Regions from separate parts of the Homo sapiens genome. Here all the other regions are linked to region 4. The links come from fine-mapping of genetic effects on gene expression. A gene starts in region 4. Each other region holds a variant in brackets. All regions are shown on one strand. Distances are from middle to middle.

Region 1 (8,584 bases), 61 kb after region 4:
CACAGGTGAAACCAACAAGGCTTAATTAAGTTATGACTTAACCACAATTGTACAAGGTATTTTTAAAGGTGTGATAGGCAGGTTTTGAAACTGTCATTGCAAATTTGTGACAGTGGAAGAGATTGGACCCAAACAATTCCATTTTGTTTCCAACCCCTAAGCTGTATTTGCCCATCCTGGGCATAGGCTGAAGCAACTTTGGGAGGAGCCTGGTTTACAGTTCATAGTCTAAAACAAAGATGATAACAGGCACTTCCCAAGATACATTTCCTTTTTTCCTGGGGACCAGACCAATGAACTAGGCACAAGATTAGAAACCATGGCCCAGAAGCCATGCAGCTGGAGGCTACAAGATTTTTGACCCTCCCTAAACTGCTCTCAAGATCAGTGCTTAAGATATTTTGTAAACCCTGCCCTTGATGGATCAGCTGGCACCACCCAGATTGACAAACTGGCTTATCTGATTTAGCACAAGAAGAGGCTACTTCCTGTTGAAAAATGGCTGAGACTAAAACAAAGTATTGCCACATGGTTACAGATTATGTTCCCAAGGACATGAAATAAGATGGAGGCCTGTGGTCAAGTTCGTTACTGATCATCTTGCTGAGTTGGCTTGAAGAGCAGGCCCATGGGATCCTGGGCCTGGTTTCTAATCTTATCCCTTTTACCAGTTTGCACAGGTAAAGAGAAGCCAAAAGCCCTAATGGTAAGAAATTTTTACCCTTTTGCCAGCATGTCAGGCTTCTGGGTTCCCTTCCCCCAGCTCAACTCTAAGCCAAGCATTTTTAAGGTTTGGAAACTTAACTTCTCCCAGGTTGGAAGAGCATTATAAAAGAGATAAAAACCATTTTAACCCATGAAAGAAGGAAAAACACCACAAAAAGGAGTTCCAATTAGGGTTTTTAAGAGTTATTGCCTCTTTTCCTATTGGGAATGGTGTTTCTCCTATTTCTTTGCCTTCCCTATTTTCTCTTTTCCCTTTTGGCCTACTACAGGAGGCATATTGCTCATGACCAAAATTTTCTCCTGCTGTCAGAGCTGCCTGTTTTAACCGTAGTTAGGGTTTGGCTTAGGAGCAGCATAACATTCCTGCGTGAGAGGTCAAATACCTGAGTTAAATTTTGGAAAGCTTCTATACACCTATCAGGGTCATCAGAAAAATGACCCAAGTCTCCCTCTACTTGCCTAATGTCCTGCAATGAGAAGAGAACATGAAGGGGCCCCAAATAAGGGGGACCCTCAGATGATTTCCCTGAAAGTTCCCTTTTTTAATTTTGAGCAACTATTTTCCCTGGGCCTGCCCGATATGGCCACAAAAGAAAATAAGCCACTTTTTCTTCAAAGTTTCAAGATTGAAGGAGTCCCAGTGCTTCAAAATACACTCCAGGGGAGTACATGTTGAAGACGATCTGCTACCCATCTAGAAAAAGAAGTGAGAAGAAAAGCGTCCTTTTAGTCTCTTTCCTTTCAGTATGTGATCCAGGATGGAGGAGAAAGTAGTAGGAGGCATCCGTTCCCCCAACTATTTTCTCTCCTTCTTTCCTGGATTCCCAGCACCCGTTTAAATGTGCCGCCCATGACTGCAGGTGTGACCCTCCAAGCCATGGCACCAGAGGAACTGAGTTTGGACCTTAGTCGTGCTGTCCCCAAGCAATCAGTTCTCTGCCTTTTATTTCCCTTTGACCTTCTAGAGTTGTGTTGCCTTGTGCCTTTCAAAACAATGAATTTCAAGAAAAGCCACGTAATTGGGCAAGACCCCTTTAAGGGAGAGGGCGCGCTAGACTGAATTCTATATCCTGCTATTATAGGCCATGCTAAAGCATTTACCCATTAAAAAATGGTTCCGGTTAACTTCCGGACTTAAAATCCCTTACTAATTAAGTACTCTCTTAATAGGAGACAAAATTGATTCCTTAAAGGAACTTAGGAACCAAATAGCCGTTTCCCTGCCAGTGGGACAATATTAAGACTAAAATTTGGCTATGGAAGACATTTTACTCCTAACTGCTAAAGGCAGAAACCTCCTGTTCCCAGAAGAGCCTAGATTCTTATTTACTTCCATGAGGTGATGTTGTTGGCTTAGAAATGCTATGTGCTTGCCAGAGAAATGGTAGCAAGTAAACTTACTGTAGGGGAAAACGGGAAAACTCTATTCCCAGACTGTAAAAATCCTTGCACATTTCACACAGAGAAACAGTAAGAGGCTGCGGATAGAGAAGGAAGAAGAGTTATGGGACAGGACAGTTGAGGTTCTCTGCCAAAACCCAGGATGGGCTGTCAGAGGCTGTGTCTGGTCCAGAGGCCTTTGAATCACACCAGGGTGTGCCCTGGCCAGAAATTCTCAGTTGCCTCTGAACTTTTCCCAGCCTCGTGCAATGGCAAGGTTCCCCATGAAAAGAAACTAGTTCAAACATGGCCAACATTCCCAATACCCATGGGTAATGGGGGTTCTCCACGTTCTCCCCAGCAAGCCTCACATCCATGACTTAAGTACAGCAGCCAACGCTAAGCATATGTACTAGGCTGACCAATGCCCACTGATTTATTGGATTTATTTAAATATAGAGGCAAAGAGCACTTCGGAATGATAGAACAGATTTTAAGCTTGCTCCCATACTCACCACTCCGATGAAGGCTGTACCTCAGATTCCGAACCAATGCACCAAAAGATATGGCTCTGATGAGTGGAGGAATGCCAGGATCTTCATCTCGAGTTGAATTAGAAAAAACGACACAGGCACAGGAGGAGCAGTTTTAAGGAGCAGGGAGTATAATAGGCAAGAAAGAAGGGGGAAGAAAAAAAGAAGAAGCTCCCCTGTAGAGAGACAGAGGGAGGGGGGCTCCAAAGCTGAGAGACAGAACCCCCTCAGTAGCATTTCTATATGCCAATAGTGAACAATCAGAGAAGAAAATATAAAGTAATGCCATTTACAGTAGCCACAAATAAAATTAAATACCTTGGAGTTAACCAAAGAAGTGAAAGATCTGTTACAAAACTATAAAAGACTGATGAAAGAAATTGAAGAGGGCACCAAAAAATGGAAAAAATATTCCATGTTCATGGATCGGAAGAATCAATATTGTTAAAATGTTCCTACTACCCAAAGCACTCCACAGATTCAATGTAATCCTTATCAAAATACCAATGACATTCTTTACAGAAACAGAAAAAAATTCCAAAAATTTATATGGAACCACAACAGACCAAGAATAGCCAAAGCTATCCTAAGCAAAAAGAACAAAACTGGAGGAATCATATTACCTGACTTGAAATTTTACTACAGAGCTATAGTAACCAAAACAGCACGGTACTGGCATAAAAATAGATACATAATCCAATGAAACAGAATAGAGAACCCAGAAACATATCCACATATCTACAGTGAACTCATTTTTGACAAAAGTACCAAGAATATACACTGGGGAAAAGACAGTCTCTTTAATAAATGGTGCTGGAATAACTGGATATTTACATGCAGAAGAATGAAACTAAACCCCTATCTTTCACCATATACAAAAATCAAATCAAATGGATTAGACTGAAATCTCAGACCTCAAACTATGAAACTACTATAAGAAAACATTGGATAAACTCTCCAGGACATTGGTCTGGGCAAAAATTCCAGCATAGGCAACTAAAGCAAAAATGGATAAATGGGATCACACCAAGTTAAAAAGCTTCTGCACAGCAAAGGAAACAATCAACAAAGTGAAGAGACAACCCACAGAATGAGGGAAAATATTTGTGAACTACCCATATGACAAGGGATTAATAAACAGAATATATAAGGAGTTCAAACAACTTACAGGCAAAAATCTAATAATCTGATTAAAAAATGAGCAAAATATCTGAATAGACATTTCTTAAAAGAAGACATACAAATGTCAAACAGGCATATAAAAAGGTGCTCAATGTCACTGATCATCAGAAAAATGCAAATCAAACTACAGTGAGATATCATCTCACCCCAGTTAAAATGGCTTTTATTCAAAAGGCAAGCAATAACAAATGCTGATGAGGATATGGAGAAAAGGGAACCCTCATACACTGTTGGTGGAAATGTAAATTAGTACAAACACCGTGGAGAACAGTTTGGAGGTTCCTCAAAAAACTAAAAATAGAGTTATCATATGATCCATCTATCCCACTGCTGGGTATGTATCCAAAAGAAAGGGGAATCCGTATATCAAAGAGATATGTGCACTCCCATGTTTGTTGCAGCAGTGTTCACACTAGCCAAGATTTGGAGGCAACCTAAGTGTCCATCAACAGATAAATGGATAAAGAAAATGTGGTACATGTACACAATGGAGTACTATTTAGCCATTGAAAAAAAAGACATCCTATCATTTGCAACAACATGGATAGAACTGCAGGTAATTATGCTAAGTGAAATAAGCCAGGCACAGAAAGACAAACATAACATGTTCTTATGCATTGTAGGATCTAAAAATCAAAGCAATTGAAGTCATGGAGACAGAGTATAAGGATGTTTATCAGAGGCTGGGAAGGGTAGTTGGGGTTGAGAGGGAAGCCGGGATGGTTAGTGGGTACAAAAAATATCTAGAAAGGATGAATAAGACCTAGTGTTTGCTAGCACAACAGGGTGACTCTAGTCAACAATAATTTAATTGCACACTTAAAATGATTAAAAGAGTATAGTTGTATTATTTATAACACAAAGGATAAATGCTTGAGGAGATGGA[T/C]ACCCCATTTTGCATGATGTAATTGCTACACACTGCATGCCTGTATCAAAACATCTCATGTACCCCATATGTATATATGCCTAGTATGTACTGACAAAAATTAAAAGTTAAAAACAAGAAAAGGGAAGTGAAGAGTTAGAACCAGCCATGGGAAAGTCTTCAGAGGGAACATCAAGTTCAAGGCAATTAGCAGGATGTGAGCTTGGCACATTCAAGGAAGAAAAAGGCTAATGTTAGTGGGGCAAGGGGTTACACAGTATGAGATAAGATTCAGAAAGCCAAATCACATTGGGTTTTATAACCCATGGATTATTTTCTGCATGCAACAAGAAGTGACTGAAAAGTTCACACAACTTAATTAGCATGGGTACTCACGGATGAGGATTGTGTGGCATTACATATAAAACAAACTAATTGTGCCTATACTGATTTCAAAGACAATATGGACTCAATAGAGAAATTGTAAGTTATTATCTTCATTATCTGGGGAATTTCTTTAGGCCAATGAATCACCTTGAAGACACTGAATGCTGTCCTTCAGAAGTGTGTGCAAAAGGAGGGTGGGAGCGGGTAATGCCCAGGAGACACTGAGGGTATTGCTCCTTAGGAAAATATTTGAGAAGCCCCCTTATCAGAGGGAAAAGGATGTAATCAGAACATTTGGATCTGGGGGATTTCAAAGAAAAACACTCCCAGATCTTTAGGGAGGGAAGAAAGAGTGATTCTGTGTCTTTAAGTACTTAATGTGGTAGAGAATGGAAACAGTCCTATGAGACCCTGGGAACCAAGTATCGGGCAATTTCAGCGGAGTTTAACCCCTGATGAATCAGCTCATCCTTCCTCATGACCTGCACAGCCTAAGCAGGGGTGTGTGTTACCGCTAGATATTCACTATCTGCCAGGCTATAGGACCAGCTGTCAACAGCAACACCATGTAGCAGAAAGAAGCAACTGTGGAACCAGCTGCCTTTCTGCTTGAGTGCAAAAGGCAGAATGAACCTCTCTTCTACTGGGTAAAGCCAGGGATTTTGGAAAATTCAGGGGAAAGGTGGAGCTCAAAGAAAAATGTTGAACTTACTACTAAAATGGCAGGCACGTGCTTAAGCAATCAATTGGGAAAATAAAAAAGAAGTGACCCCAAGTTTGGGTTGTACCCCAAGTTTGTAGAGCAATTTTTAAGTGTGACATATACCACTCATCTCAGGAATATTGCCTTGTCTGGCAGGATGAAAACAACATTTTTGGTACAAAAAGTTACATAAATCATTTGAGATTCAGTAGCTCTTTCAGGGTTGCAAAATGAAGCTGGCACAAGAGTCTGTGCTCTTATCCAATAGTATTTTTTTTTTTTTGGTCTATCCATTAATTAAAAAAAATACTGTTGTAATTTTTAAAAATACTATTGTCTTTATTTGGCATACAGTTTTTATTAAATTTTGGTTTCTGGTTAGTATATTTTATATTCAGTCATTTTCACCATTGCTCAAATAGTAACTAAGGAGTTAGCCAGGTCTGCTGCCTTTGAGAACCTTCCATAAAGACTCTCTATTGTGGCTGTTTATTATTATTATTTGCTACTCAAATCTTGTTTTTTTTTTTCCTAATGGTACCTTGCTTTTGCTCTTTTTATGTTAACTCTGCTTCATTATCTGTATTCTTGACGTGATGAAAATTCAGGTTCATATCTGAGCAGTGGTGGTCATGTGGAATTAGAAAGACCTTTGGGGGTTATCTGGTTTCACTTTTCCCATCCCTTTTCTTCAGCTCTCTCTTAGGTCCTATGATGCTCATATCATGTTTTCTTTTACTTAAGTTAGCCAGGTTTGGTTTCTGTTGCTTGTTACTTAAGTATCCGAACTAATACATAAGTCATGACAGGGTCTTCTCTAACTTCCCATTCCCATAAATAAGTCCTCTAGGGAAGTAAGTCCTGCCAGGAAAATACATAGCTAAGCTGATCATGAATGTTAATCATGGTTTTAATAGTGATATGTATTATTCCTGCCCTATATTGTATGCATTTTCATAAGAAATGTTTTAGTGGAAAAAATATGTTGGTCATAATATAGTAAGGTCTAAATCAAAAGATGCCCAGAGACCATCTTGAACAATATTTCTCACTCTTGTAGTACACAGAGATAATATTCACAGCTCACATTTTGGACAGGAGCCAAAAGAGCAAAGAAGAAGGGTGCAGAGAGATAAAGTGAGCAGGAATTTATTCCAGACGTTTGCTGCCTAAAAGCACCTTAAAGTTTTGGTAAACTTAATTTTAACATAGAGACAGATTCCTATTTTTTTTAATGGTATTTTATATTTGTATTTCCAGTTTGACTTTTTTTTTTTTTTTTTGAGGCAGAGTCACACTCTGTCCCCCAGGCTGCAGTGCAGTGGTGCAATCTCGGCTCGCTGCAACCTCTGCCTTCCAGGTTCAGTTGATTCTCCTGCCTTAGCCTCCTGAGTACTGGGATTACAGGCGCCCGCCACTATGTCCGGCTGACTTTTGTGTTTTTGGTAAAGATGGGGTTTCACCATGTGGGCCAGGCTGGTCTCGAACTCCTGACCTCAGGTGATCTGCCCACCTCGGCCTCCCTAAGTGCTGGGATTATGGGGGTGGGTCACCGCACCTGGCCCAGTTTGACTTTTGACTTTTCAAAATTCCCACAAAATAAATACAGATTATACAATGCAGTTTTTATACTTTGTAAGACTATTTTGTAGTAAGGCTTAACAGTTTTTTTAATAGTATAAAAAAGTCTTAAGATTAAAACTTTCTTTTTATAATTTCTTTCAAGGCCAAGAAACACAAGTCTTTTTGAAACTGAATATAATTTTGTTAAACTTTAAATCTGAAATAAGCATTAAAAGCAGGAAGTAATATTCTAAAATAAGATTATTTACTAATAGTGTTATTTTTGTCTAAATATAAAATACTTTATTAAAAATTATGGTTTATTTATTGTGGTTTACATTTTCTTTTATTGATTTTTTGGTTTCTGGTTGGTGTATCCCAGAATCATTTGTTTCAAAATATCCTTCAAATAGTAAATAAAGACAATTTTAGGACCTAAGGTCTAATGTTGGAATTGAATAATTATTTACTATATTCAATAGAAATAAATACTAATAATTATTATATAGCTTAATGAAAGCAGTATTTATAATTTTATTAAAGTTTATTTTTGAGCTTTTTCTTTAACATAAATGGGACTAAGTAATCTTAATATCTATGCTTTTTTTTGCCTCATTGTTTTCCTGTTCTTCTATTTTTATTCATCATTCTTATTAGCCAATTCCAACCATTCTATTTTTTTTTTTTTTTGAGACGGATTCTCGCTCCGTCGCCCAGGCTGTAGTGCAGTGGCGCGATCTCGGCTCACTGCAAGCTCCGCCTCCCGGGTTCACGCCATTCTCCTGCCTCAGCCTCCCGAGTAGCTGGGGCTACAGGCGCCCGCCACAACTACCGGCTTATTTTTTGTATTTTTAGTAGAGACAGGGTTTCACCGTGTTAGCCAGGATGGTCTCGGTCTCCTGACCTTGTGATCCACGCATCTCGGCCTCCCAAAGTGCTGGGATTACAGGCGTGAGCCACCGCGCCCGGCCAATTCCAATCATTATTATAAATGTTTTTTCTCTTCTAAGAGGTCTTCTAACACTATCCCAGGATAAAGTTCCCTGTCTCTAACAGTCATCTAATATGGGATCACAGTCTCCTTTGTGATAAGTTTTTTGTCTTATTATTCAGTATTCCATGTATTTTACCTCAAAGTAGATTGTAAATTCCCTGAAATCAGGGACTGAGGCAGTATACACAAATCGTTTAGAATCATAGCCTCTATAGCTGTATGCCTTGGGTGAATGTCAGCTCTGTCACTAT
Region 2 (8,584 bases), 22 kb after region 4:
TAAGTTTTATTATATTTTATTGTTATTGCTTATTTAATTTTGTCAGTAGGCAGAAAGTTTTAGTTGAACAGAGACCATGACTCTTTTACTCAATGCTCTGTCCCTAATACCCTATGCAGTACCTAGCATGTGGCAGATACCTAATAATATTTGTTTGAATAAATGAATGCTGTAAAAGAAAATTGAGTGGGAAATTGGGTCAAATGACCTATTTAAGATCCTTTCCTACTCTAAGACACGTGCTTTAGAAATAAATCCCAGTGCTAAAGACAGTGATAAAATACATAAACTAGTAGATATTATTTTTTAAAAAAGGAACATCTTTTAATCATTTAGGATTTAAAATATTAAATTTGGCAACTTTTTCATTAAGATTTTGGCAATTATTTTTAAGTCCAAAGAATTTAGGAAATTGAGGGCACAAATGAAATTAAGGGCTTGCCATTCCCCTCTGCTTGCTACTTTCCTATTTTTGTCATGTGTGTTGGTCCAGTCTGAAATGTATGCCATTATTTTACCCTTGTGTTCTTGGCTCAATAATAGAGATAAAGGATGACAGAACTCTAGGTTGTCTGTCAATTGCCAATGACAATAGAATTTATACTGTGTACTTACTTTGATAGTACTCTCAATATAACCTCTTCTCCAATTTTATGTCTCTCTTTATCTTTTGTCTTATGAATCCTTTTTAGTTTTAAGGGAGAACCATCTTTTATATTTCCAGCATCCTTTTGTTCTTCAAGGACTTCTAAGTCTTGAGAAATAAAAAAGCCAGTTATTTGTGCTGAGGCAGGAGGATCATAACGTCAGGAGTTCGAGACCAGCCTGGCCAATATGGTAAAGACTGTCTCTACTAAAAATACAAAAATCAGCCGGGCGTGGTGGTGGGCGCCTGTAGTCCCAGCTACTCAGGAGGCTGAGGCAAGAGAATAGGTTGAACCCGGGAGGCAGAGGTTGCAGTGAGCCAAGATCGCGCCACTGCACTCCAGCTTGGGTGACAGAGCGAGACTCCGTCTCAAAAAAACAAACAAAAAAGATATTTGTGGCTGTGAAATGGGTGAAACATAACTTTAATTCATTTAATCCTAACCTGAAAGTTATAGCTGTGTTTTCTTTGGAAACTTCTGAGGCTTCTTTTTTTAATGTTGTCTTTCTGAGTGATTTTCTTTACTTTTGCTCTGGGAGCGAGGCATTCTACATCTTCAGAGCTACTTCTTTTCTTCTTCCCTTTTTTGACTCAGGTAAGTTGGATACTTAAAATCTTTCTTGCTTTTTTGTTTTTCTTTGAGGGTTGCTTTTGGAGTTCACTAGTTTCTACTTCTGAGCCCTCAGAGTGGTTCTTGATCTTTCACTTTACAGCTGCTTGCATTTCTTGTGTCCATATTTAACTCTTTGATCTGGACATTGTCTTCCTTTTTCATTTGCCCTATTTTTTTTTCTTTTTTCTTCTGTAACAATACAAACATTGGTTTAATTTTACTTCTACTCCAGCCATTTAAATATTAAATATTTTCAAACACATCTATTTAAATATTAAAGAACTATTTAATATTTATTTTTAGGCCAGAAGGGGCTCAGTTTTCACTGTCTTAGGAAATATGCTAGGTTTTCTTGGTGCTTCTTCTGGTGGGTTGTTAAGAACCTGAAATGACTGCAAAAAAGTTTTACTATTTATAATACTTGCTAATTTTTTTGCTTTTGGAAACAGTTTAAAAATAAGGGTTTAATACATTTAGCCTAAGCTTTTCAGAATTCTTACACCTTACTAAGAATGTCAATACATTTTAACTTTAATATTTAAAAAAAATGACAAAAGTAGAATTATGGAAGTGATAGGGAAATACTTTTTTCAGTCCATAATATTTTAAACCTATATATAAAATTATTTCATGCAGAAGGCTTATTTCTACATTTAACATTGTCTGTTTAATTTTTGCAAGCCTAAAGAGAAAATTGCAGCATCAAGTATAATTATTAAATCCCTATTCTTTTAGGATGCTAGAGAATTTGCATCTTTTTTTAAAGAAAGTAATTTGACATTTTCATTAACACATGTTTACCTGCTTGATTTTTTAAGATGAAAGCCATAAAATTGTTTCTTACACCAGAAGACTTGGATGATCCTGTAAATAGAGCAAAGAAGTATTTTCTTCAAACTGGTATTTACGTTTCTTTATCCTGTACATAACCATGCAGATACAGATACACACTATAAATGTTTTATCAGCAGGAGAGCATTTATTGTAACATAAATGTGATAAGAAATAAATTATAGTATATTACATACTGAACACTTTTATTACATGACTTAGGCACTCACTTCGTTTTTGGTCAGATTTGGAAGTTTTTTTGTCTATGCTAAGTCTTGTCTAGGGGTAGGGGCAATGGGAGAAATAGTTTCTTAGTTTTTCTTGGCTGAAATCCTCTGAGAGAGAGTTCCAAATTCGAATCTGGCACTGATGACAATAATTAATTGCAGCTGGGGGAGATACAAACACAAATAAATAAAAGTTCATTTATGATATTCCAAACTTTACACATTATTCTCATTCTAGCTGCCAATTAGCCCTGTCAATTTTTAAAACGTTAGGTCAGTATGATGGAATACATATAGAATGCTTGATGAAAACCACTAAGGAAAAGTGGTTATGAGTATGGCTTGAGTCAGACTGCATGGGGTTAACTCTCAACTTTAATACTTCCCAACTGTATGATTTTGTGCAAGTGATTTGACATCATTGTGTTAGTTTCCTTATCTGTAAATTGAAGCAAATCACAGTACCTAAAAGAGTATTATGAGATTTAGATATGCCCTTGGAATAATGCCTTGCGTGTACTACACAGAGATAAATATTACCTTTATTTAAATAATATTATTTATAATATTATAAATATTACCTTTATTTAAATAATAAAAACAGCAAGCACACCATTTCAGATTCATTCAGATATCTGACCGACATACTGAATTTCACTTATATTGAAATAAAGGATGTCAGTTTTCAAATATTTATTTATTATTTTTAATTATGTACATATTACATATGTGCAGCTATTCGCAGGAAAGTAGTATTTTTGTGCCATACCACAATGTGTAAACAGTGTGGACACTTCTAACTCTTATGAGTAATTTAAGTAATAATAAGGAAAATTCAAAGTGACTTGTTTATGTCTGTTATAGAGTCCCGAGATGATAATTTCCTTATGGCAATGATTCTTAAACATTCATATGCATAAGAAACACCTGGTACATCTATTTCAATGCCAATTCCAAGGCCATACGTGAATAAGCATCTTTGTGGTAGATTCCAGTCATCTACATTTCAAAGTGCATTTGTGAGGCATAATAGTGTGCCTGAAGGCTCCAGATCTCAACCCTTTCTTAGTAAAAAAATTCTGTGTTTATGTCCAGAATAGCTCTTTAAAAAACTCAAGCCTCTGCTAGCTCAGCAATTAAATTATTTAATCCTTTAGGTTTTTTGTTTGTTTGTTTGATTTTGTTTTAACAGTCCTGTGAATAACTTCATTAGATTATCTCTATTCTGAAGTAAGGGACTTTAGTAAGCTGTTACTAATGTTGGATTCTTGGCTTTTTTTTTTTTTAATAGCAGGGAAAGTGAAAGTAGGGCCATATTATGCTTATTATTTTTTTTAAAGCTCTTCAAGTGTAGCTAGGTTTAACTGAAAGTGTTGAATATCATCTTAATACCCATGTTCATTGCCTCAGTTTGAGATTAGAACAAAAGCCTTTATAACTGGCCTTTAAATAAAAGTGGCTAACTATACCTGATTTACCCTTTGTTTCAGAGGATGCTAAAGGCACACTTTCATTGATGCCTGAATTCAAAGTGCGTGAGAGAGCATTGTTGGAGGCATTGCACCGCTTTGGCATGACCGAGGAAGGTTGTATCCAGGCATGGTTCTCTTTACCCCATTCCATGCGCATATTCTATGTTCACGCATATACCAGCAAAATTTGGAATGAGGCAGTATCTTACAGACTTGAAACCTATGGAGCAAGAGTAGTGCAGGGTGATTTGGTCTGTTTGGATGAAGACATTGATGACGAGAATTTCCCAAATAGTAAAGTAAGTATCATTCCATCAGAGTTTTCCAAGAGTAGTTACTATACCAGAACATGAATTTTTCAAAAGCCCTGATTATAGAAACACTTTAAACATACATGTAATTTATTTATCTATTTGTACTTATATTTACTCATCTCCTGCTTCAAGTCTGCTGTCAGTTTAGGCTTAACACATGTTGGTAAATGGAAAGATAAAAATAGTGGTATGGAGTGAAAGATATATAGGTAGTAAAGCTTCCTTTAAAAAACCCATTTTAAAAAAGATTACACAAATAATGCACAAAACAGCCCATAAAAATAAAAATCAAGGCCAGGCGTGGTGGCTCACACCTGTAATCCCAGCACTTTGGGAAGCTGAGGTGGGCGGATCACGAGGTCAGGAGTTTGAGACCAGCCTGACCAACATGGTGAAGCCCCATCTCTACTAAAATACAAAAATTAGCCAGGTGTGGTAGCGCACGCCTGTAATCCCAGCTACTCAGGAGGCTGAGGCAGGAGAATCTCTTGAACCTGGGAGGCGGAGGTCACAGTGAGCCGAGATCGTGCCA[T/C]GGCGCTCCAGGCAGGGTAACAGAACGAGACTGTGCCTAAAAACAAAAATAAAAACATTACAGATGAGGCTGCCATCCCTGCTAGCATCCTAATGTGATTCCCTGTGCTTCCTCCAGAGACTCAACCTCTGTTGTTTGTTATGTGTCTTTCTAGACCTTTCTGTATGTTTTCACATAAATATCCATTGAAAATCTATTTTTATTCTATTAGTTAACACCGAGAAAAGAAAAGGTAGGACTTAGAGACTCAAAACTTAAAATATGGAGAGGAGAAGGAATATGATTTTTATAATGGTATATGGAACAATGTAATGTGTGTATTTCTTTTATAGAAATGTGATTTTATCTAAATATGATTCATAATTTCCTCTTAACAATGTCTTAGAGACATTTATATTAGTGAAGTTATAATATAGTTTATATTATAAAGCTTGGTCCTTCCATTTCCTCCTTGTCCAGTTTTATTTTTTATTTTTATTTATTTATTTATTTTTATTTTTTATTTTTTTATTTTTTTGAGACAGAGTCTCGCTCTGTCGCCCAGGCTGGAGTGCAGTGGCGCGATCTCGGCTCACTGCAAGCTCTGCCTCCCGGGTTCACGCCATTCTCCTGCCTCAGCCTCCCAAGTAGCTGGGACTACAGATGCCTGCCACCACGCCTGGCTAATTTTTTTTTTATTTTTAGTAGAGACTGGGTTTCACCATGTTAGCCAGGATGGTCTCGATCTCCTGACCTCGTGATCCACCCGCCTCGGCCTCCCAAAGTGCTGAGATTACAGGCGTGAGCCTCCGCACCCGGCCATCCAGTTGTTTTTATCTCTGTGAGTTTGAACTAATGAAACTGGGTTCCATAAATCATGCAAGGAAATTCATTTGATAGTGCTGTAATGCAAAAAGAACAAATTATTATTCTCCAACTTTATCATAAGTCAGTCTCATAAATTTTAAAAATTAGTGAAAATTTGAGTAACACTTTCGTATGTAACAGTAAAATCATTGAATTTTAGAGAACAAAAGGATTTTAGAGACACTCTTTTTTAATTCCCATTTTATAGAAATGAAAATTGGGTCCCAGATTGGAGAGTAGACAGATTCAGAGTCACACAAGTAGTGGAATTAAAAAGACCCGGCTGCCTAACTCCTAGCCCTGTTGGGTCTCTACTAGAAAAATCATGGAGTATAGAGAAGTAGTCTGTAGTGAGAACTAGAACATGGTCCGGTTTTTCAAAAATAGAGGTAAAACAGACTCTGAACTCTACATAAAGCAAACTTTATCTAAATTAATGTCAGAATTCTTGATGTATTAATTAAGGTTTTTTGGTTTTAAGTAATAGAAACCCACCTCAAACCCACAGTAATTTAAAGAAACATGGGAATTTATTGGTCCTCATAACTGAAAGCCCATGATTGATTCAGGCGCAGCTGTATTTGGGACTTAAGTGTCCTAAACGATCTCCTTTTTTTCATCATTCAGCTCTGCTTTTCTCTGTTAGATCCATTCCCAGTCTAGCTTACACCTTTGGTGGCAAGATTATTATTAACGACTCTAGGCTTATTTCTCACCACTCTAGACTTGCTTCTCTGCAGAAAAATGATTTTTCTTTCCCAACAGTGTCAACAAAAGCTGTGTAATTGAGTCTCAGTGGCTAGGAATGGCCTGGCCTGGATCATATGTACAGAACCAAACCAGAAAGTGTGAACTGCAGTATGTGATTGACTAAACCTGCATTCCTGGGGCTCCTTCCTGGGACCCTAATCCACATCTGACACCTGGGAGAGGTCCCCTGGAAAATGAGAGTGCCGCTACTTGAAAAGAGGGAGTAAAGATTGCATAAGCCAGAACATCAGATGTCGGCTTCACTTTTTCATTAAATGGATGAATATGCAAAAACTGCAATTACTTGTGCTCCAACCTAATAGGAAAGAAATGATAAGAAAATGATCACTAGGAGGCAGCATATGTTACTAAGAATGGTAATTTAATTGAGATACAGACTCAAACTGTGTGAAAAGAAATCTAGTAGCATTTAAGTTTTATTTTACCTCATGTGGGGGAGAAGAGATATGTCAATGATCCCCTTTTGATAAATAATAAAAAATCGTTATCATTTCTTAACACCTCCCAGAAAACATGTCCAATTAAATATTGGAAAGCACACTAATTAGTAAGTCATCCATTTCTAATTCAGATTTTTGGAAGTTAAAGATTACTTTCACAAGATACAACAATTTTTGAAATGCATGAGTTTTATAAGACTTCTTCATTCAGAATAACATTTACAAGGATAGTTTTGTGATTGGAATTTTAGCTGCTTTCTTTTTGGAGCTATAGGAGAAGAGAAAACATTTTCTCCTACATATTTTGCAGAATTTCCTTTTATGAGCAGCAAAAACAATGTTTATATATATTTTAAGATCGATCACTTATTTTATTAGTTAGCACTGAGGAAAGAAAAGGCAGGACTTAGAGGCCCAAAATATAAAATATGAAAAGGAAAAAGAATAAAATTCTTAATAAATGGTATATGGGGCATGTAATATGCATCTACAATTAAAAATTATAGAAAACTAATCTGATTCCTTCTTTTGATAGAGTTACTAGACTAACAGGTGTATCTACATTTTCAAATCACTTGGTAACTTTTCTTTGTGTGTGTGTGTGTGGGCAAGATGGAGAAATGTGAGTTAGACAATTAAAAACTTAGGTGAATTTATAGTTGGGGAGCAGCCATACAAGGAAAGCATGTTTGTTCATGAATTGCTGGATATCAACCTGGAGGGAATTCTTTAAAGACAAAGCATGGTGTTTTATACCTGACCATGTTTATTCGATGTTTTCATAAATTACTTAAATCACAGTATGTAGGTATACTTATGACTCTGTGAAAGAAAAAAGGCTAGAAATGGTGATGCAAGAGAGATCATAATTCCATGTAGTCTGTCTCTTGTATTTTGATCAGATCACATCTGGAGCTTTGTTTCTGTTTCTGAGTGCAGTAACTGAAAGAGGTTAGTTACCAATAAACAAAAAAACAAACCCTAAATTAAAAACAAAAAGGAGCAACATTATTGATAAGACTAGGGAGAGTTGAGGGGAAATCAGGTAGATTTAGAGGGGCTCTAGACACTGTACCGTGTGATGAATGCTTTAGGAATATGAGAATGCGCTGAAGCCTTGTGAAGAGAGAATAGCTGCCTTTCTGTTTGAGCTTTCATGTATAAGAGAAAGCAGAACTGCTTATTCTGTGATATCCTAGAGCCACATTTCATAGAGTTAATCTGTCATGCACCTTTTTTTCCTCTTGTATGTGACACCTGTTACCATTCTATGAAACAAATGCTGAGAAATACCACCTCTTTAAATTTTTTTTTTTTCAATTTTATTTTAAAGACAGAGTCTTGCTCTGTCACCCAGGCTGGAGTGCAGTGGCACCATCATGTTTCACTGCAGTCTTTAGCTCCTGGGATCAAGCGATCCTCTTGCCTGGGTCTCCTATGTAGCTAGCACTACAGGCATGTGCCACCACACCTGGCTAATAAAAAAAAATTTTTTTTTATATAGACAGGATTTCCCTATGTTGTCCATGCTGGTCTCAAACTGCTGGCCTCAAGCGATCCTCCCAAAGCACTGAATTACAGATGTGAGCTACCACATCCAGTCAGAGAAAAATCAGTTCTGTATAGATTATTATATTTTCGGGGGACAGAGATTAGTGGGGGTGGGTAGTGGGTTGATATTATAGAAGCAGATTTTCAATTCAGCCTAATAAAGAAAAACTTTGTGATTTAGAAAAAGATTGCTGGTGATTGAGGTGAAAGTATTGCCTCAGAGTTTTCAGCAGCCCACCTTTCTCCATGTTATCCAAATTCAGTGATTAGTGGTTAAAGCAGGAAGAATCATTCTAATTTTTATGTAGTCTACTCCTCCAGAAACAAATTATGATAAGATC
Region 3 (5,749 bases), 22 kb before region 4:
CAATAGAAAATGTTATTTTTAGATGTCAAATTTATCCATATAAATTTAGACTACAAAAGCAGAGAAAAAAGGATTGAGGAAAATGAATATTTCATTTACCAATAACTGAGGTTCACGGTGTTCATCCACAGCTGGAAGTCCAGTTATTATTTCTAGTAAAACCTATGAAGACAAAAAAAATCATTAATATAATACACAAGATAGGCTGGGCACAGTGGCTAACGCCTGTAATCCCAGCACTTTGGGAGACAGATGTGGGAGGATAACTTGAGCCCCGGACTTCACGACCAGCCTGGGCAACAGTGAGACCCTGTCTCTACAAAAAATTTTAAAAAAACATTGGCTGGGTGTGGTGGCACACACCTGTAGTCCCAGCTACTTGGGAGGCTGAAGTGAGAGGATCACTAGAACCTGGGAGGTTGAGGCTACAGCGAGCCATAATTCCACCACTGCACTTCAGTCTGGGTGACTGAGTGAGACCTTGTCTCTCTAAAAAATATATATATTATACATGATATTAATAAATTATATATATAATACTCAAGACAAAAACTAGAATGAATATGAATCTTGCTTACAAAATTTGATTAATCATTCTATACAAAGCTATGTCTTTTAGATATTAAAGTGGAAAGAACATGAGCTTTGGGCATTTCTCACCATCCCTCCTTCAGGGACATCTTGGACCCCAACATGACCATAAGCAGCTCTTTTCTATTGGCAACTTACTAAAGAGTCAGCCCCACTCAACATATGTTCTAAGGACTCCCAATCCTTTTCCTGCCTCTTGGGGATTCTTCACAAGAATAATTTACTCTGGCTCTTAGGAGAATATTATTTTCTAAACATTAGGCATATTCTATAGCCCTATGCCTTATTTTCAGTGCTATGAAGTTAAATTTCCATATATGAAACACGTATGAAAAAATAAAATGAAGAAAAAGCCCCCGGCTTCTTCAACCACCCACACCTATCTCTTGCTCTATCTTAAAAGTTATTGGGAATAGAGAGGTAGATTAGTAAATGTCAAAAAATGTGAGACTAAAGTATATACTGTATGACATGATTCATTTAATGCATTAGGTGTCATGCTAATTCATAAAGACAGATGGCAAGAAAATCATTTCTTGTAGTCATTTCAAAAATCAACTCAAAAGTTTTACACATTGGAAGAAGTTTTTATAAACTTTCTGGTATAAGTAGAGGTTAATGTGAAAAACTTATATTGTTACATAAGAGAGATAAACAAGATGGGTGTATTAAATAATATTCTCTTCATTTTCACAATTATAGCAGAATGATTATTTTTAATAATTATGTATACGGAACTTACCACACCAAAGCTGTAAATATCAGATTTGGGTGTTATTTCTCCACGCAAAGCTTCTGGTGCCATATAAGCTGTTGTTCCCACAATTCTGCTAGTCATGACTGTCTGGGCAAACTTCTCAGAAGCCCGTGCAAGGCCAAAGTCAGATATTTTAGCAGTAAAAGCTTCATCCAGTAAGATATTTGCACTGAAAAAAATGTAAAGTTTGAAGAAAAAAATGTTTTTCCCACCCCAAAAAAGTCAAACAGTTCCTTAGCTAGATGTACGTATGTATGCATGTATATATGTATATGCATACATGCATATGTACATACATATTTACAGAGTGTAACGTTTTATAGTATGCATCATAAAAGCCTAAAGTTTATAGAAATAAACCTAGAATTCAGATTATAGCTAAAGAGAAGCAACTGTCCTCTTTTTTTATGTTTCTTGAGGAAAACATTTAGGAGAATAAAAATGAAATAAAACTGTCTACATTAGTAAGAGATATTTTCATTATTCCACAAATCATTTATTATAGGGTAAATTACTACAAAGTCTTCCAAGGCACCTTTATTAATTCCTTTCTTAGTATGTATCAATTCATTTCAAAACAAATTTCCAACCAAAGTATCTCAATTATGAATTTCTTTATTCTTTTGTTCTGTACTATCTGGCTTTTGAAGAGAAAAAAATATGGCCAAAATATCTCAATTAATTCATTATGTGCTTTCATACTTTAATTCAACACAATCTTATTGAGAACTCCCTATGTTGTGTAGTATTTAAGCTCACTGCTGGGCATGGCGGAGTCTTAAAATCTTGTCTGTGACAAAGGCATAAATAATTTTTTAAAACAATGGTAATATTAGGTACAAAATGCTGAGAGAACAACCATGTGCCTGGAAAAAGTAGGAAAAATTTCAAACAGAGGGTGAAAAGTGTGCTTAGTATTGAAGGATTATTAGAAGTTAAT[A/G]GTTATATGAGGGAAAGAAAGGCACTCCAGGCAAATGGAGTAACAGGTACAAAGTGACAAAAACATGATATGGTATACATGGTCAACTTCAAGGAACGAGTGTCCAAGAAACATGGAGATAATTTGCATTTTATCCTGTGAGCAACAGGATACCAGCTAAAGTTTTCACAGTAGGAAACTGATGTTATTAGACTTAACTTTTAGGACCATGACCTAGTAGTGTGGTAGTGAATAGATGAGAACTGATAGGCTGGATTTAGGTTGACTACGAAGGTTTGTAACAAAGCAAATGGGAGATAATGAGGGTTTAAATGGTCATAACATGGGATAAATGGAAAGTGAAAATTTTGAGGCTCACACAACAGAATTTTGTAATTAGCATGATATAGAGAATGAGAACGTGTTCAGTTTGAGAGACAGAATGAACAGTGACTTCACTGGATCAGAAAGGAAATGTGGGAAGACTTTAGGTTGGGAAGAGCTGATGAGTTTGATTTCTAATGTTCTGACTTAAAGGCTACTGTGGGATACCCAGATGAAGTGTTTTTGGTACGGGGATACTAAAAATCCAGGATTGGAAGCTAATAATACAGATTCAAAAGACACTCACATATAAGTAGCAGTTAAAATTAACATAATATCACTCAGCAAAAACATACAGAGAGAGGCCAGGCGGGTGGCTAATGCCTGTAATCCCAGCACTTTGGGAGGCCAAGGCGGGCGGATCACCTGAGGTCGGGAGTTCAAGACCAACCTGATCAACATGGAGAAACCCCATCTCTACTAAAAATACAAAATTAGCAGAGCGTGGTGGTGGATGCCTGTAATCCAAGCTACTCAGGAGGCTGAGGCTCGAGAATCTCTTGAACCCGGGAGGCGACGGTTGCAGTGAGCCAAGACCGCGCCATCGCACTCCAGCCTGGGCAACAAGAGTGAAACTTGTCTCAAAAAAAAAAAAAAAAAGAACATACAGGGAGAAAAGAGACAATGATATAAGAACACAAGAAAGTACCAATCCATGAAGGATAGGAGATGGCGTTTCTTTTCTCATCTAGGGTCAGTTCCTCTGCTTGAGCTGCTTTCTACATTCTCAGTAACCCTACTGAACACATCATCTCATTTCTCTCTTCCATACTATCCTCTCCCTTTTAATCTGGATCCTTCCTATAGGCACATAAGCACAGCTTAATCTCTGCCAGCTTAAAAAAAGTTTCCTGAATGACTTATCTATTTCTAGCTGTCCCCTTCACTAGTAAAATGTCTTAAAAGACTTGTCTATACTCCTATCTCAGTTCTCTAGCTCTCACTCTCTCAACTACAATGTGATTTCTAAACCAACTACTACCTGGAAATGGGTTTCCATAAAGTCACCAAAGACCATGGTGATGCTAATCCAATGATTAAAGCCCTTGACTCTTTTTGACTACTCCCTCTTGGGAAACACTTTCTTTCCTCGTTTTCAGGGACTCCACACTCTCCAGGTTTTCATCTTACCCTTCTCTGTATGTGTACTTCCTTAGATTCCTTTTTGTGATCATCTCTTCTATTTGGCCATTAAGTCTTAGGGTTCCCCAAGACTTAATCTTGTGACCTTTTCTTAATCTACATCTCCCCTCAAGTGAATACAGTCACTTCAATTATCACCTGTATGCAAGTAATACACATTTATATCTTCAGCTCAGACCTCCAGCTCCAAATCTGTATATCACACTGTCTACCATCTCTACTACTACATCTTAAAAGCACCCCAAACACAACATGTACAAAAGAGAATTCACATTTTCTAACCATCTCTCTAACCCCAACCTAACCAAGTCTTTTTTCAGTCCTTTCTACATAAGTGAATCATGCCATAATCATTCCAGAATGCAAGTCTGGATGCCATTATTCCAGGAGTCATTCCTGATACTTCGCTCTTCCTGAACCCCTGCATAGCCAAGGTATCAACAAGTTTTGCCATTTTAATCTTTCTAATCTGCTCCCCTCTCTTCTTATGAACTGCCACCTATGATAGCCTACTAACTGCCTCTTCTTACAAACTGTTCTCTACACTAGAGTTAAAATCATCTTTGCAAAACTTAAATATGATGCCATATTCCTACTTAAAATTTTCAACGGCATCTCATTACACTTGTGATAAAACTAAAAGCCTTACCTTGATCTATTAAGTCCTATAGGACTTAGCTTCCTACACTTCTCTGTAGTTTTATCTCCAATCCACCACCCTATAACTTTCTGCATCTCAGTCATACTGCATTTACTTCATTTTTTTTTAGACAGAGTCTTACTTTATTACCCAGGCTGGGGAGCACTGGCACGATCATAGCTCACTTCAACCTTGAACTCCTGGGCTCAAGCCTCCTCCCTCCTCAGCTGCCCTAGTGTCTGGAACTGTAGGCATGCAATACCACGTTTGACTAGTTTTTTTGTAGAGATGAGGTCTTGCTATGTTGTTCAGGGAACATAGTCAGGTCTGCTACTCCTGGCCTCAAATGATCCTCCTATCTTGGCTCCCAAAGCATATTTCATTTCTTGTAACTCATCATGCTCCCATATTCTGTCTCACCACTGGTCTTACAAATGCAGTTCCTTCTGCCTAGAATGTTCTTCTCCCCATCATCCATTCTACAGTTACCCTCAAATTGTGTCTACTTATTTCCTGCCCATTCTTTGAATCTCTGCTTAAATGTCACTTTCTTGGAAACCCTTCTTTATATTAATCCTATGTACTATACTATATAATAATAATACATATAATATATATGTGAACTGTACATATTAACATTCTATAATTATTTTGTGCTTATTTGATTGATGTTGAGCTCTATATATGAATATGTTACTTATAGTAGGTAAATATTTAACTAGATAAATACACAAGAAAGAAAGAGAACTGAAAAGTACTCATGGAGGATGAAGGTGATTCAGAAAAGAATAGTGATCCATAAACTAAGAAAACAACTAATTTCCATAAGGCAAAAGTGTCAAGAAGAACAGAATAAACTACTATTAAAACAAACAAAAAAGGTCAAGTAGGATGAGTACTGGAAGTAGGTCACTGGGCTTGGAATAAAGGAGATTATAGATGTCCTTATTGAGAAGAGCTTTCATGGAGTGATGGGAAAAAAGTCCAGATGCTCTAGGTTAAGACCTGCATATGAATCGTGAATAGAGTGACAGCAAATTATTCTTTAAAGACAGCTTTCCAAAAACTTTTAAACAGTAGCATTTACCTTTTAATATCTCTATGAATATGATGATTTTCATGTAGAAAATTGATGCCATTAGCTGCACCCTGAGCAATCTTGCATCTCATGTGCCAAGAAAGTGGTGGAGTACCATCCTTATAAAGAAATAAACCAAATTAAAAATGAGAAAGAATAATAAAAAATCTACAGAGAATATATAACACAGAATATTTTTCTAGGCAACAACTGAAGATGATGTTATAGCATTAATAA
Region 4 (8,584 bases):
CAGCCTTGAATAGAGAGAAACCTCTTTTGAATCTAGAAAGAAGGAAGCAGAGGTTTAAATACAGATATATTTGAAGGGAGAAGAGTTCCCACATACTGTTATTTTTTCTGTGAAACAGGAAATGAAGTCATCTAGGGCCAGGTAAAAGAATAGCCCACATACCTTAAAGGCCACCTGGTAAATGCCTATTATTCCTTCAAGCCCAATTCAAAAGGCACTGTTAGCTTCCCCTGATTGTCATCTCTTTTGCTCCAAAATGTCACCTAGTCATTCTTCTGTTATAATAATTATTATGTTTTACTGTTTATGTGTTTGCTTTCTCTGTTAGATGGGTGCTCTCCTGAGCTAGGACCCAACCAAATTCACCTCAGCAACGACTCACAACATTTGTGTTGAATGAAAGGCTGATGACTTTTTAACTTTAATTAAGAAATTGTATCTAGGTTGCCTATAGACTCTGCAGTTGCTCTCTTCAAGTTATTTTTCCTTACTAAGATTTCTCTCTACTGTAAGGTACAACATGATTGACAAAGCTAGACAAGATAGAACTGCTTAGTAGTCTTATAAATTAGAGCAAAATACAAGGAATTGAGGAAAAAACCCAGACTATCTAAAGGCCAGGGATAAATTTGGTAGCTCTCCTGCACCCAGGCTTCCAGCAGAGGTGATAAGTGTAGGGATACTAGGAAAAAGAAGGCCTTCTGCAACTCCTCCACACATGTGCCCAGAAGTTCAAAATCCCAGAAATTAAAATTTTACTTTAAATGTATATTCATATACCACTCCCAACCACATACTTACAAGAACATAAGCCAAAATATTAACGTGGTTATCCCTTGGTGATGACTTTTATGATAGTTTTGTTTTCATTTTGCTTTTCTGAATTTTCAATAATGAAAACAGACTGGGCAAAAAAAAACTTAAAAAGTGTCATCTCTTTCAAATTCTTCAAGATTTACTTTAGTACACTTAGGATTAACACAGGTGGAACAGGATATGTTGCTTACAAATAAGTAAATACCTTCATGACTGTTTCCTCATACCACTAACTCTCATAGTAAAGAAAACCCATTCATATTTTCAAGTAAGACAATTCAGACAAGTGTAAAAGGTGGGGTGGTGATTGAGAAATATATTAAAATAAGCACCTGCTTATGGAATCCAATGCCTTCCCAAAGTACTGTGCCCAAAACAGGAGGGCAAAAGATTCTTGTCAAATGTGTTAATAAAGTTTTAAGACTGCTTCATTAGCACTTTGATCAGAGGAAAAGATTGTGCAGGGGTGGAGGGAAGATGAACTTTGAGGTTGCACAGGCCTAAGTTCTAACCAAAGCCAACTGTGACCAGAGCTAGTAAATACATTTCTCTGCACCTTGCTTTTCTTTATCTGAAAAACAGAGATAGTAATACCTAAGAATTGCTGTAAGAATTAAAATCAACACATGCAAAGGGCCAAATCTTGTCACATAATAATAGGTGGTCAAAAAAAAAAAGGAGCAATTATTATTTCCTGGCAGAAATTATTCTTATATCACATTATTTTTAAAGATATGTGCAGACTGTATTTAGGTTCAATTTCCAGAACAGTAGTGAGGATCTACTGAAAGCGTACAAATAACAAGTCTGAGAAAATAGCTAAGCTTTTGAGATGGTGGCTGTCTTATTTGATCAACCATGGTAATTTTAATGTATTTATATCCTTTCTAAAATACACTATTTACTTCCATATATTCTTAGCAAAATATGCTGTATAACCATTAATCTTTATTTTTAGATACTTTAACATCATCATTATGAACAAAAGCTGGTGAGGGCTTCCAGAGCTATTAAATTAGATAGGGCTGCCTATTACAAACTGGGATATGTGCTGGTGTACCATAAATTAAACTTAACATATCTTTCTTGAACATTGATCCAACACAACAGTAAGTAATTGAAAATGCTTTGCATATATTTAAAAAACAAAATATAATACCATTGACTCACCAAATATTTACTGAGTGTCTACTTTGTGCTAGATACTGCTCCAGGCCCCTGGAGATGAAGCATTAGGAAAATTAGAGAAAAAAAACAAAACAAAACCAAAACCTGAATTCATGGAGTTTATATTCTAATGGAGGAAGGAAGGCAATAAGCAAATAAATAAACTCTATAGTATGTTAGATGGTGCCAAGTGAAATGAAAGAACAAAACGAAATAGAGAAAAGGTTGTAATTATAAATATGGTAGTCACAGGAAGCCTCAATAAGAAGGTGCCATTTGATTAAAGGTCAAAAAGAAGGAGAAAGCCAGCCACTGGACTATCTGTGGGAAAAGTTTGTGGACAAAACGAAATGTAAATGCAAAGGTTGGAACTGGGCCCACTGGGCAACAGCAAGGACATGGTGAGACTGCAGAGGAGGGAACAGGCAAGTAGCAGATGAGGTCAGAAAGGTAAAGGGGCCAGGTCTTCAAGGGCCTTAGAGTTTTTGTATTGACTTTGTTTATCCTCTGGGTGAGATGTAGATGCTGGAAGTTTTGAGAAAAGAGACATGCTCTGTACTCATGTCTTAGAAGGATACTGGGGCTGCTGGGAATAAAGGATGTTGGAGTAAGGACAGAGAAGCAAGAAAGAAGCATTTAGGAGAGCCTACCAATAAGCCAGGTGGGACGTGCTGCAGGCTGGGACCAGGGTCGTAGCAGAGCAAGTGCAGAAGTCCTAGGATTCTGAGGTGGAGCCAATAGAAAGCTATGGGCTGATGTGGAGAGTGAGAAGACAGCATAACCAAGTTTACCGATATTTACTGAGATAGAGAAGGCTGAGGAAGGAGCAAGTTTGGCCTGGAATATCAGAAGCTCAGTTTGGAGAGGTAGAAAGCAAACTTCAAATGAACGCTCTGCAGGAAAACAGAAGAAATTTGAACTTCCCGATAGCCCTCTTCAAGGACCACTCCAAGAAAGGGAAAAGGCAGATTTTAGTATCCTCTGCTTACCAGGGGCCTTGGGCAGTTACGTTTTTGAAGCACTAATAGCGCCGTTTGTTCCCATTCTAAATGCTCAAAGTGCTTTCTCGCTTTCTCAGGGTTTGCTTTTTTTTTTTTTTTTTTCTTTTGAGACGGAGTCTCCCTCTGTTGCCCAGGCTGGAGTGTAGTGGCACGATCTCGGCTCACTGCAACCTCTGCCTCCTGGGTTCAAGCGATTCTCCTGCCTCAGCCCCCGGAGTAGCTGGCATTACGGGCGCCCGCCACTATGCCAGCTAAATTTTGTATCTTAGTAGAGACAGGGGTTTCACCATGTTGGCCAGGCTGGTCTCGAACTCCTGACCTCAAGCGATCCGCCCGCCTGGGCCTCCCAAAGTGCTGGGATTACAAGCATGAGCCACCGCACCTGGACAGGGTTTGCTTTTATCCCTTTGTCTCCCTCTGGCTTCCAAGCTGACAGGTACACTTTTTTCCCCCATCTGCGAATGTACTCATCTGATCCCATAAGCCGCCTCCACTTTCTAATTCCCTGGAAGCTTGGAGGCCGGAGAAACAAGCGAATTACAATCGTGTGGAGGCTCAGCGAGCTGCTGGCGCCACAGGCATCTGTCAGGTGCTGGCCTGACTTCCTGGTTCTGGGGAAAAGAGACTTCATTTCGCAGTCGGGTTCACGGAATCCAGGGCCTGAGAGGTGAGAAACTTGAGGTCCGACTGCGCCCCAGAACAGCTGGGTGACGTCCCTCCAAGCCTCAGGCTCTTCCTCAGGGCCGACGAACTTCTTGATTACCGGGGACCTACCCAAGTCTTTCTTCTGGAGTAAGCTCTGTCAAAGGAACCCACTTCCTCTCTAACTTTTCTCACGGATGATAAAGAGATTTCCGTTCCGCAGCCGACCCCAGCAACCCTGGGGCAGAGGTGCCGAGGCCTGGAAGCGGACCTCGGACGACGTTTGACCGAGGCATTAAGGCGGGGAATGCCTTACCTGCCCGGGCGCGGGCTGCTGAAGCCGGCGACAGAAGAACCAGCCGAACTAGGAAGCGCCGCGAAGGGGCGGGGCCTGCCGGGTTGGCCCCGCCCCACTTCCCCGATGGGCTTCATCTTGGCGCCTCCAGGCGGCTCCACAAAGTGAGAAACTCCACGTATTGCGTAGGGCGCGTCTTTACGTGGGCGCCTGCCCCTTTAATTACGCCCCTGTCGGAGGCTGAAACACTTAAGGCTTCCGGGCATGCGCACAGCGTTGTGCAAATGAATGCCTTCCACTGAACCGAGGTAGACGGGGTCGAGTTTCTTGCGCGATGGTGGGCTTGTATGTGTGTGTGTGTGTGTGTGTGTGGGGGGGGGGGGTGACGAGGTTGGCATTGAGGATCCATACCCTTTGCGCCCAAAGAAAGGTGACGTGGACTAGTGTCGTGCCTTTGGACAGGCAGAGTAAGAGGAGGGAGAAGAAACAGGTAGAGCTGCTGGCCTTGTCGGGGACACCTTTGGACGTGCTGGAGGGCAACGACGCCCTAGTTTTCTGTGAAGTTAAGTAGCTTCTGCAGGACTGGGTTCAGTATTTCTAGTACCTTCTCAGGATCCCTCCTCCGCCAACGAATTCCTCAACCACGGGCCAAGCAAACTACTCCCCCGCCCACTGTCAGCAGCAGTCTCTGTTGAATGGGAATACTGCACCTTCAGGCTTAACGCCACGTGGGCTCCTTTGCTGTCCTCCAGGTCAGTTCCACTCTTCTACCAGGATGCTGGAATTACATTCTCCCCAAGTTTCCCTACCTGTTTCACTTGCTTAGAATGTCTGTCTTCCTCCTTTTTTCTGGGAGAAAGAAAAGATCATTATTCTTTCAGGGCCAATCCCTACAGCTATGTTCTTGACCATGCTGTTTTGTTTTTGAACTCCTCTAACTGTTACTCCATCGGATACATCTTGCTCATTTCCATCAGAATCATCTTACAATTCCAAAAGCATGTTTTGGAATTGTGTCACTTTTCTACTCAAACACTAACAGTAGCCATCCATTGACCACCCAATAGATTCTAAGTCCTTGTCAGGGCATTCAACATCTTCCATAATCTGGTACTAACTCAGCTACATTTTCCAGCACTGTAGTCTCCCTGCATTCCCATCCCCACTGCTCTGTATCTGGACTGCTTGTTTTTCTTGCACACATTGCATGTTTTGTTTGTACATTACTTGTGAGGTCTCTGCCTCATTTCTATCTCTTGAACTATGGAGGACTTAGATGGCCACTTCTTGCATTATGCCTCTTCTAATTATCTTCCACTTCATTCCTACAGCTCTTATTTTGTACTAGTTATTTCATTTATTTAACAATAGTATTTATTGCAGACCTACCATGTGCTTGACACTGTTCAAAATGTGTGATCATCAGTAGTAAATAAGGCAGACAAGGTTACTCCTCACGTGGAACTAACATTCTCTTTGGAGGAGATATACAATAAATAATAAAGAAAAACTTTACCTAGAACTGCTATGCAGAAAATTAAATAGGGTTTTGTGAAAGAGAATCACTTGCTGGGCACGGTGGCTCACGCCTGTAACCCCAGCACTTTGGGAGGCCGAGGCGGGTGGATCACGAGGTCAGGAGTTCAAGACCACCCTGGCCAATATGGTGAAACCCCATCTCTACTAAAAAAATACAAGAATTAGCCGGGCGTGGTGGCGCGCCCCTGTGGTCCCAGCTACTCGGGAGGCTGAAGTAGGAGAATCGCTCGAACTCGGGAGGCGGAGGTTGCAGTGAGCCGAGATCATGCCACTGCACTCCAGCCTGGACGACAGAGTGAGACTTCGTCTCAAAAAAAAAGAGAATCACTTGCAGGTTCCTGTAGATTATTGGTCAGGAAAAACTTCTCTGAGGAAATGAATCCTAAAAGATGCAGCTATATGATTGGGGAGGGAACAATTTAAACAACAGGAACAGTTAGCACAAAACTATTGAAGAAGGCCAGAGTAGCTGGAGTATAGTGGGTAATGGGGTAAAGGTACAAATGAGTTTGGAGAATAAGCAGGGTCCCTAATCTTAGATGTCCTTGGAAGCCAGGGTGAGTAATTTGGATTTTATTGCAAATGTGACTAGAGGGTTTTAAACTGGATTGTGATATGATTTAATTTACCTTTTAAGACCATTCTGGCTGGTTTGTGGGCTAGTTATAGAAGCAGGAGTTAGGGACCTTCACAATATCTAAAAGTTTTTGGAATGGAAGTATTAAAGTTGGTGTGATAAAGGACATTGGGAGTCATAAGAATCAGATGCTTAAGGTTAATGCAGTTTTTGGAGATGAGAAAGTCAAAGTTATGACCGTGACAGTGGATGACCAAGATGAAGTAGAGGTGTGAGGTTGAGGTTGAGATTGAGGACTTGAGGGTCCAAGACATTGAATGGATGATCCATATAGATGATCATAAAAATCATGTTGGATAAGAAGGTAGTGAGCCAGAGATCAGTGAATGAAGCAGAGTTGTCTGGGGATCCGAGAGAGGATGACAGCAGATGGTAAAGCCCAATGGCAGGCTCTTCAAAAGAATTGGGGTTTTTGGAGGTAGTAGAGGAAGAAATGGCTTGCAACGAACAGTGACAAACATAGACCAATATTTACAGCCTCCAGGTCCTAAGGTAGATGGGTGGGAAAGAAAAAATAGCCTTTACTTGAGAGGACTGAAGAAGAAGCAGCCTGAAGAAATAGCCAGATTTCAATTAGGGCAAGAAAGTGAGGGAACTGTACAGGAAATTAAGTAATTAAGGAAAGTAAGTATATCTTATATATTCCTTAGGAAATTAGGATATGGAGAATTTGTAGTGATTTCTATATGGCATGATGGAAAGGATTGAGAAGGTGTGATTTGCTAAATTGGTTCAGATTAGTAGAATACATTATAGGTATGAGATGATGGTCCAGATGATGATAAGTTACTTGGAGAATGTGGGGGAAACACAGAACTCACTAGTATGGGGCCCCTGGGCAATTTATCTTTCCTGCAGCTCCATATGGTATGGTAGCCATGGGTTTGTGTGAAAAGTGAGAGATCAGAGTACTATTCTCTTGCATAGTGTTTCCAGGAAGCTCTGTAAGGGTTTCTTCTGTCTGATGCCAATGATATAGTTAGAACTTTCCTCTGGCTCAACCTTGAAAGCTTCTATTTGTCCTAATGGGGGCATTAGAGAAGGCCCAGGACTGACTTAATCCTACCTTGAAATATAATCAAATCACAAATTTGTATTTAGAACTTCATTTACCCATCAGTTTTCCTATTGTCTTTTTGTCACCTCTCCTGTCACTAACCACTAATAATATAAGAAAACTTAGCCACATGTTCTCTGGAATTAGCTGGAAATTTTAGGCTCCAGGAATGGAATTTGGACAAATCTTTGTTTTATAGTCCTGTGTTCTCACCTCTTCTTGTGAGCCTACAAATGATATTTTTAAGATAAAATTGACTCATTTTAATCCTGGATAATAGGTACAAATCTGGAGTGAGTGAAGATACAAGTTAACAAATCTTTAGCTATACCAGAAATAGTTTGCCTATTAATTCAGCTTGGTATAGGAGAGTCAAAGTACACAGGAAGTACATATAGTTATAAATTAAGTTAATGATACCATTTAAGAAGACTCAGAATTAAAAGAGAGACAGAATTAACTAAATCCTGCAAACCTATTCCTATTTGGTCATCCATAACTTCTCTTTCTGTTAACTAACCACCTCTTTGTTTTGTTTTCTAGGCACTGTTATAGAAGAATGGAAGAAGATACAGATTATAGAATCAGGTTTAGTTCTTTGTGTTTCTTTAATGATCACGTTGGATTTCATGGCACTATAAAAAGCTCACCAAGTGACTTTATTGTTATTGAAATTGATGAACAGGGACAGTTAGTTAATAAGACCATCGATGAGCCTATTTTCAAGATTAGTGAAATACAACTTGAGCCAAATAATTTTCCCAAAAAACCAAAACTAGATCTTCAAAATCTGTCCTTAGAAGATGGAAGAAACCAAGAAGTTCATACTTTGATTAAGTACACTGATGGTGACCAAAATCATCAGTCTGGTTCAGAAAAGGAAGATACTATCGTTGATGGAACTTCCAAATGTGAAGAAAAAGCTGATGTTTTAAGCTCCTTTTTGGATGAAAAAACTCATGAGTTACTGAATAATTTTGCCTGTGATGTAAGAGAGAAGTGGCTTTCTAAAACAGAGCTAATTGGACTACCTCCTGAATTCTCAATAGGCAGAATCCTTGACAAAAACCAGAGGGCTAGTTTACACAGTGCCATTAGGCAGAAATTTCCATTTTTAGTAACTGTAGGAAAAAACAGTGAAATTGTTGTAAAACCAAATCTTGAATATAAAGAACTTTGTCATTTGGTATCTGAAGAGGAAGCATTTGACTTTTTTAAATATTTGGATGCAAAGAAAGAAAATTCCAAATTTACCTTTAAACCTGATACAAACAAAGACCACAGAAAAGCTGTCCACCATTTTGTCAACAAAAAGTTTGGAAACCTTGTGGAAACCAAATCTTTTTCTAAAATGAATTGCAGTGCTGGTAATCCGAATGTGGTGGTAACAGTAAGATTTCGGGAAAAAGCACACAAACGTGGGAAAAGGC

The links. PIP is the estimated chance that this variant, and not a neighbour inherited with it, causes the effect.
Region 1: its variant is fine-mapped to the expression of PUS7L in esophagus mucosa (GTEx, PIP 0.97).
Region 2: its variant is fine-mapped to the expression of PUS7L in skeletal muscle (FUSION, PIP 0.95).
Region 3: its variant is fine-mapped to the expression of PUS7L in whole blood (TOPMed, PIP 0.99).

The regions. Positions count from the first base shown.
Region 1 is chr12:43,693,367-43,701,950 of GRCh38, reverse strand. No RefSeq gene overlaps it. Among named protein-coding and RNA genes, the nearest start is that of PUS7L, 61 kb to the left of the region's middle. The variant T/C (reference allele first, on the strand shown) is at 4,708.
Region 2 is chr12:43,731,885-43,740,468 of GRCh38, reverse strand. It overlaps PUS7L (pseudouridine synthase 7 like), which reads left to right. Exons shown (of 9, transcript NM_031292.5): 6 at 2,078-2,159; 7 at 3,808-4,088. Among named protein-coding and RNA genes, the nearest start is that of PUS7L, 23 kb to the left of the region's middle. The variant T/C (reference allele first, on the strand shown) is at 4,636.
Region 3 is chr12:43,778,075-43,783,823 of GRCh38, reverse strand. It overlaps IRAK4 (interleukin 1 receptor associated kinase 4), which reads right to left. Exons shown (of 12, transcript NM_016123.4): 8 at 5,522-5,631; 9 at 1,334-1,517; 10 at 100-162. Among named protein-coding and RNA genes, the nearest start is that of IRAK4, 22 kb to the right of the region's middle. The variant A/G (reference allele first, on the strand shown) is at 2,289.
Region 4 is chr12:43,754,375-43,762,958 of GRCh38, reverse strand. PUS7L (pseudouridine synthase 7 like) reads left to right here and starts at 4,169. Exons shown (of 9, transcript NM_031292.5): 1 at 4,169-4,229; 2 at 7,698-8,584. The coding sequence starts at 7,714. IRAK4 (interleukin 1 receptor associated kinase 4) reads right to left here and starts at 4,008. Exons shown (of 12, transcript NM_016123.4): 1 at 3,943-4,008. RefSeq lists enhancers at 3,302-3,361, 3,982-4,091, 4,432-4,481.